Linked DNA regions of Homo sapiens: all the other regions are linked to region 3. Evidence: fine-mapped expression QTL. A gene starts in region 3. Each other region holds a variant in brackets. All regions are shown on one strand. Distances are between the middles of the regions. Region 1 overlaps LINC02778 (long intergenic non-protein coding RNA 2778). Region 2 overlaps C1orf87 (chromosome 1 open reading frame 87). Region 3 holds the start of C1orf87 (chromosome 1 open reading frame 87).

What was found.
Region 1: its variant is fine-mapped to the expression of C1orf87 in whole blood (INTERVAL, PIP above 0.99). The same link has a PIP of 0.9 or more in NK cells, blood mononuclear cells and platelets.
Region 2: its variant is fine-mapped to the expression of C1orf87 in aorta (GTEx, PIP above 0.99).

Annotation. Positions count from the first base shown.
Region 1 is chr1:60,140,986-60,143,750 of GRCh38, forward strand. All of the region lies in intron 1 of LINC02778 (long intergenic non-protein coding RNA 2778), which reads left to right. Among named protein-coding and RNA genes, the nearest start is that of LINC02778, 28 kb to the left of the region's middle. The variant T/C (reference allele first, on the strand shown) is at 1,138.
Region 2 is chr1:59,993,366-59,996,130 of GRCh38, forward strand. The region is part of intron 11 of C1orf87 (chromosome 1 open reading frame 87); the gene reads right to left. Among named protein-coding and RNA genes, the nearest start is that of CYP2J2, 68 kb to the left of the region's middle. The variant C/A (reference allele first, on the strand shown) is at 1,696.
Region 3 is chr1:60,072,540-60,075,304 of GRCh38, forward strand. C1orf87 (chromosome 1 open reading frame 87) reads right to left here and starts at 1,231. Exons shown (of 12, transcript NM_152377.3): 1 at 1,151-1,231; 2 at 1-131. The coding sequence starts at 104.

The sequences.
Region 1 (2,765 bases), 68 kb after region 3:
TTAAATGATTAATTGAAGTTTTCCAGGTGGGCAAGGAAGGGGAACGCATTCCAGGCTAAGAAGACAACATGAGCAATAAGCTTTTGTTCCTTAAAGGGATTAATCAAAACTTTCTATTATTTTATTTCTAGGCACAAAACCGGTGCTTAATAGAGGTTTTACTGGCTTAATTTATTTAGTCATTCTCTTTGTTCCATGTGGCAGATATGCCATTTGCCACTCTAATATTGTCCTATCCTTTCTCCTAGTAAGAAAACTCTAATTTAGTGGAGGCAGCAATGGGCCCAGCTAAAAAGATGATGTTTCCAAGCCTCCCTTGCAGCTTGAAGATGTAGACAGAAATTGTTGGGGAGTCTTCTAGGAAAGCACATAAGAGAAGGACAGACAGCTGATCTATCCCTTTTTGCCCTTCGCCCTCATGTTCTGATTCCTGCTTAGAATCACCTGTGTCTTAGACTGTGGGCCATCCGTGAGAATGGAAACCACATGATTGTGACAGTAAATGGAAAAGCAGAAGGAAGCTGGGTCCGTGATGACAATGTGAGGTCACATACCAATCCTGAATGCCTATTTTAAGATTTTTTTAATGTAAAAAATAAATTTCTCTCTTCTTTAGGCCACTGCTATTTCTATTCTCTGCTACTAGCCGCAGAATGCAATTCCTAACTGATATACACCACATTTACCCTATGCTCCAGAAATCTACATGCAGATGACTCGGGGCAACTACAAATACTTATGGCTAGAAATTACTATTTGGAAAATGCATAGAAATAACTGAGAGAATTTTCCTGCATGGACCTCATTTCCAAGGTGCATCTCAAAGACAGTCTTATACCAGCCATGCAGCGTGGAGGAATTCTAGAAGCCTTTCAGGAAGAGAAAGTGGCTGCTATTGCTGCTGATACTGCTGCAGTTTAGTGGAAACTAAAAGGCTGGAATGATGACCTTTCAAGAAGAACAAATGTTATTAAATAATGGATTTTTGTCCCACCTCCTGCAACAGTCAAGAGCAAAAGGATGAAAAGGGAATCCTATTCTTCTATTAATAACTCCTCAGTCAGTCTCATGCTGACAAAGCAGAAAGCAGCTTTAAAATTAGCAATTTTGCCTGCAAATTAGCCCCTTGCAAAGCCA[T/C]AAAAAGAGAAAAGGAAATAAGAAGAATTCTTTTAATGGAGTCAAGGATGGAAAAACCAAGAGTGATAGAGCATAAATGCCCAGAAAACATACTTATTTTAAGGACGATAATACCCAGGTTTTAAAGAGCTGCTTATAGCTGTGTATGAGGAAAGTGTTAATTTATAGCCCTTGGACCAGTGGCTTTTCTTAATGGCTCCTTGGAGCGAATCTATCAGATAACTTGGAAGAGCACAAGGTTTAGGTTGACGTTAATAAATATTACTCCATTCACCCCTATCTGAGAAATTCCTATTCCATTTCAGAAAGGCAATGCAGTAAATGAAAAGAGATTAAACTTTACAGGCAGACAGACAGGTTTGAACCCTGGCTCTGCTCCTTCACTAGCCCTGGGAAAGTCTGGGCACCACTCTGGGCCTCTATTTTGTCTTCTATCAAAACAGAGGGTAATTATGCTTCAGTGTGTTAGTATCATTAAATTTAGTACCATGCATAGAACTTGGTCCCTAGTAGGTTCTTAGTGAATGTTAGTCCTTTTCTACTCTCCTTTCCTCATCTGATAGCTAGGAACACTAAACTTTCTTGCAAACCTATGCAAAGCAATTATATTTATCTCTGTGAAATTCTCCCCATAAGAAGATGAATCCCTACAGAGAAGATGAGCACATTTCCATAATCTACAATTGGTCTCAGGTATTAGGCTCCTGTTTACAGTTTTGTATAAATGATAAGTCAATATTCAATAGTGGGAATAATCTGAAAAAATAAACTGATACTCCCTTAACAATAAAAAGGAGGAGCTCTCTATTTCCAGCAAGGAACATACACAAGAGCAGGAATTTTAAATTTATACAGTTTGCTTCATTTGCAGCTTTGGTGGTTTCCACATTCATAGTCATTTAATACTCCTTACGTTCCAAGAGGAAGTGAGGAACTTGGGGATCTGTTGAAGGCTTGGCGAGTCTCAGTCATTCCTTTCTTAGTTCAAGAGGGTATTTTATACCTGAAACATACATTTTCCTTTCCAGGTCTAAAAAATTGCAAGATATAAAGAAAGCAGTTAAAGCCATAATGCACATGGAGTACAAACACTGTTTGAAGATGAGTAAATCATTCAGAAATACCTGAACAGCATTTAAAAAATACTTTTTCTTATTGATGGCTGTAGATCACAAGATTGGATACCTTTATAGAAATCTAACTGTGCTAGAAACACTAGGCAGAGTTACCTCTCCAAATGTAGTAATACAGCCCCAGAATAATTCTCCTTCAAGTTTTCAGATCTCAAGTTCATAGGATCTGGTTTAGGTGGGTCCTTAGAAATGATTTAAATCCCCTAATAACATAACCATATAATAGTTTTTCCACTTGTGTTTGCACATCTCCAGCAATAGAGAAGAGCATTCTTCCCAGGGCAGTTGAGTTGAAATTAAGTCAATACATATGCATCGAGCTCCTCTAATATGATAGTCAATTGTTTGTACAGAGGTATGTATTAGCTTCCTGTGGCTGCCATAACAGAGTACCACAAACCAGGTGGCTTAAAACAACAGAAATTTATTGTCTCACTGTTCTAGAGGCTAGAAGTTTGAAATAATGGTGTCTGTAGGGCTATGATCCCTCTGAAA
Region 2 (2,765 bases), 79 kb before region 3:
TAGTAATCACTCAATAATGTGAAATTTTACTATAGGATAATTATAATAATTATGTCATCAACATTATTTTAAAAATATATAAACAGTATATATGTAATTGCTTATTAAAATAGATAGCATTTAGTTTATATTTTAATTAAAAATTAAAAGTTATGTTAAAAAATACATCTAGGAATCACAGTAGTATTTTCTATCTTCTAAGCTTTACCATTGATAGAAGATGCCTAGAGTCAAACAAAAAGTCCACTGAATGAAATTTGTATCTGTCTAATTTACTCTGTCATTAGGGGATGCCCAGAACAGCTGCATAAAATAGCCCTTACAATCCATCTTAGTGTTGGAAAGCCTGTCTTTTCTAACCAGAACCAAAATAAAAAAATAATAAGAATCCTTTTTTTTTTTTTTTTTTTGAGATGGAGTTTTGCTCTTGTTGCCCAGGCTGGAGTGCAGTGGCATGATCCCGGTTCACTGCAACCTCCACTTCCTGGGTTCAAGTGATTTTCCTGCCTCAGCCTCCCAAGTAGCTGGGACTACAGGTGCCTGCCACCACAGCCGGCTCATTTTTGTATTTTTAGTAGAAACGGGGTTTCACCATGTTGGCCAGGCTGGTCTCGAACTCCTGACCTCAGGTGATCCACCTGCCTTGGCCTCCCAAAGTGCTGGGATTACAGGCGTGAGCCACTGCACCCCACCATAAGAACATTTTCAACATCAACTTCATTGTACAGTATATAAAGAACTTTCAATCTTTTATCTCATTTGATCCGTTCTCAAATCTGGGAAGTATGTTTTATTATTATCAGTTTTACTTTGTAGATGAGGAAACAGGTGAAGAGAATGTAAGTGACTGGCTTTTACGGATCAACAATGGGTGGAGTCTGGATTTGAATCTAAATCTTCTGATTAAAAAAAAAAATCAAGCAAAATCGTGTGCTCTTTCTAGTATGTCATGGGACTGGGTGTAGTGGGGATTCATGGAGAGCTGGGCTTGAATTATGGCTCACCATCCTACTGGCTATTATTTTATCACTTTGAGCTTGGCTTTCTTCTCTGTAAATAAGGATACTAATCCCTTCAGCATGTTGTTGATGTGAGAATTTAGTGATGTAGTATATGTAAAGTCCGGGCTCATGCAGAGGAATTTCTTTCAGGCTCTCATTGCATTCTCCCTCCTTGAACTCTAAAACACTTTCTATTTAGCTTTCACTTCACTGGGAAAATTCCAAATGCAACATTCACCCAGACATTTATCTTAACCACTGTTTTTTTTTCTTTAGAAAACATGACTAGTTATTCATAATCATTCCTTATCCCTTCTCCTCAAGGCTATTTTGTTGACAACCCCCATTAGAGAATAAGCACAGTAGGTTCCCAGAAGCACTGATGTGATGATGGATGGCCTGTCCTCATCCTGGATGGAGAACATGCTGGCCTACATATTTCTTTGCACATAATAAAGAATAGTGATTCATCCATGGGCAAAGCAGATATCATCTGCTCAGCATCTAGAATGGGGCTATGGTGGTCTGCTAAGTACTGTGGGTTAATAAACCACCAAAGTGACCTCAGTTAATCCTCTTTCCTCATTAAAGACAGTTGTAGATTTTCCCAGATCTGGCTGACACATTCCTTGGCTGTTGAGGAACTAATGAATTTCATGGAAACAGAGAAAACAGGCATAAATAGTGAAGAGGC[C/A]ATGAGAAAGGCATTTCAAATCTGTCGGAATCTGCCTCCAAAGTCAACAAACTCCGTTTCTCCTCAGAACGGTTCAGAAGCATGAGAAATCTCCCAGTCTTTGGAGAGTGTCTTAGCAACTAAGTTTATGATCCATTATCCATCACAAGTAAGCATTTGTTTCTTTAGCAATGTCATTTTTTTAAAAAATGTTTTGTTATTGCTTGTAACCTCATCACCACTCTCATAGCCCTGTTGTGAATACCCAGACTCAGGGTTATTTCAATAATCTTTTCATCTCCTTCTCTCCAGTACCTTCCCTAAGTCATCCATCTCAGCTTTCATTATGCCTTCCTCCGCATGTACATTTGGATACTGGGTAAAGAATGAAGCCTCATCCTATCCCTTAGGGTTCATAATAGGTTCTCAACTTTACTGTATGTCCAACATCCACCTCCAGCAGTCCTGTCTTGGTACTCGCTTCTCCATCATACTCATTCTCACCTTCTAACTTTTGCAGGAGATGACTTCAAACTCGGGATGACCTGTCCAACTGTCCAAATTCTACCTGAAGTCTCAGCTCAAGTTCTCTCTTTCTTGGAGTCCTCTCTTGGTCCCGGACCTCGCATTAGATGGTCAGCCTCATTTCATACCTTCACTTTCCTTTTGACTCTTGAACTCTTATTTGTGCCTTCATTTGTCTCAAACTCTTGGGCTCAAGTGATCTTCCCACCTCAGCCTCCCAAAGTGCTGGGATTACAGGCATGAGCCACCATGCCCAGCCATGTAACTTCATTTGTAATACTTAATGCTGTGTTTTAATTTTGTTTGTTTACTGGCACTGAACTATTGTTAGTCTCTGTGTCTTACCTAAAGGTAAGCTCCTTGAGGCCAGAGACTATGTCTCATCCTTTCTGGTTTTCCTCTTGGTTCAGCCTCTAACACAGTTCTAGGCTCATAACGTATTTTTAATAAATAACTTTATAATTCAACCAGATGAATCTTTCAATTAAAATTTTCAGGTTTTTTTTTCTCTTTGGTATAATTATTAAGAGTCCCTGGATTTTGTATGGCAATTATACTTCCTCGTG
Region 3 (2,765 bases):
TTTGGCTTCTCCACGAGGTATTGAAAGTGTTTACTTCCAATGATTTTCACCATGATCTCAGGCATTGCATCTGATCCACGGGGAGTCTTCCAGGCTGAAGACATGATTCCTTTCAAAATCCCTTCAGATCCCTAGGGGTGAAAATAAGTAAATTGTTCCTCTTGATTTTCCATTAGGGAACTGCATCATCCTTGCCAATAACAACAAGCAATAATAATAGCAGGACAAAGTGTTTCACCTATATTACCTCACTTAACACTCCTAACAAAGGCATGAGAAAGATATTTTTAACTACTATTATCATTTTTGTTTTACTGTTGAGGAAACAAGCAAAATGTAGCTATATGACTTACTCACATCACATCACATCACCAGTAATTAGCCGACTTGGGAATCTCACCTAAGAGGTCTGTACAGCAGATCTACTGAATCATTAGGTGACTCTACCTTCCTGTACTACAAGACATAGGATGGAATTCCAGTGAGGTCAGAGCAGAAACAAGGGCATTAGTGGGACATATGAAGAATCCATATTCAGTTCTGATGTTTAGTTTCCCCATTTATGAGATCAGGGTAATTCTAGGTCTGTTCTCAGGGACTTGAGGGTGAATCCAAGGAGATAATGCATCTGAAGGGAGACTGTACACAAGACAGACAGACTTTTGTTGTTATCACTGATCTCTTTCTACAACAATACAATGAATCTGAAATTGAACTCCTGCACAAGGTGTTTAAACAGAGTGATGCCAAGGGAAAATCAGAAGTTCAGTAAATCTGGCCACAGCTGAACACTCCCTTTTAGAACCACCCAGAGGCTGAAAGGCCTTTAGAAATCATTCTACTCCAAAGGCTCCTTCACAGATTGGAAAACTAAGGCCCAGAGAGGGTGTGTTATTTGACAAGGGTCACAGAGGAATGAAGGACGGGACTGTTTCCAGTACTTGGGTCTGATGTCTAGGCCAGGGTTCTTCCCAAAAGTCCAATACTAAAGACCTGTGCTAGGGCAGCCCCTCATCCCGGGGACCTGCAGCCTCTTTGCACCTGTCTGGAATCTTCCAGACCCGGAACTCGTGATCCTCAAATCCCCTCCCTGCCCAGCAGCTGCGTGTCGGCCCTGATTGCCCGGAGAGAACAGAGTCGGGGGGCTTACCGCTAGGGCAGCGTCCCCACCCTGGCAGCTCAGAGGTGCGCGGTCCGTGCTTCTCCCCAGGAAGCTGACACTCTCAGACCCGGGGACGGGACGGGGCGTGGGGACCGAGCCCAGGAATCCGGCCAATCACAGGGCCCGCATCGCGGGCGGCGCCTGTTCCGCCCTGGTCGCTAAGGACGCTGAAGGCTGTTTCTGGGCGGGGACCAGGTTTTTCTCCACTGCCTAGGCAATGGACCCAGGCTCTGGCTGCCAACGGGTGAAGAGCCTAGGTGTTTTTGATCTGTGCCTTCTCTGTTCCTCAGAGATATGCGGGCGTCCTTCTAGAAGCCCATCTCGCTCACCTGTGTGGTCACCCTTGTCCCGCCCTTCCTCCGAAGGCTTCATTTCCCTTTGTGAGTTTGCACATAGTTGAGATTCCAACACAGTAGGTTCAAATCCAGACGTCTCCACTGTATGGCTTGAGTAAATCCCTTCTTTTCCCTGAGATTGTTTCCTCATCTGTGAAACGGGGCAAAATAATAACACTGTCCTAACTGCGATTTGGTGACTAAATTAAATAAGAATATCGGCCGGGCTCAGTGGTTCACCCCTGTAATCCCAGCACTTTGTTAGGCCGAGGTGGGCAGATCACGAGGTCAGGAGATTGAGACCATCCTGGCTAACATGGTGAAACCCCGTCTCTACTAAAAATACAAAAAATTAGCCGGTCGTGGTGGTGCGCGCCTGTAATCCCAGCTACTCAGGAGGCTGAGGCAGGAGAATTGCTTGAACTTGGGAGGTGGACCTTGCAGTGAGCCAGGATGGTACTACTGCACTCCAGCCTGGGCAACAGAGCGAGACTCCATATCAAACAAACAAAGAAACAAAAAAACCAGAATATTATAGATTGATAATAATAACGTTGAGTACTGTCTCTATGCCAGATCCCTATGACAAGCTGGATAACTCTCACCTCACAAGTTAATAGTTATAAACAAAATAGTTTTACTTTATTTTAAAGAGAAAAGAAACAAGTTGGGGTATTGATAAACTACTCCAAATCCTGCAAAAGCAAGTACAGAGCTAAGATTAGAATATAGATCTGCATATCCTACATTTCCAGACAGTTGTTATTATGCTAAAAGAAACTTCAGCTGATGCAGGCAAAGACACTTTAGATTGATTCCCAAACGGTATTGTTATTTGCATCAACATAGGCAGCAGCAGCTCCAGCATCTGTTCCCCTGTCTCCTAACCTCTAGCTGTACTGTGCTTTACAGGTGAATATATCACCCACTGGCACATGCAGCCAGAGGTGGACAGCACACTCAGCTCCCCTCCAGGGGCTCACTCTCTAGAGGGTGAGACACACAGCCACATTCTATGATATAGAAAGTGTTAAGGGAGCAGAGAAGCGGGGACAGCTCCCTTCTCACTCCTCCCTCCTAGCCTTCACGTTGCTTCCAGATCAGTCTTCCCAAGGCCCAACTCTGACAAGCCCCCTCCTCTACTCAAATGTCTGAAAGATCTCATCAGCCACAGCAGGTGTCTGTGGTTTCAAGACCTTCCACTATCTGACTTCAAGCTAGATCTCTAGCTTGATCTCCCACTACTTCTCCTAGGCTTGTTATGCTGC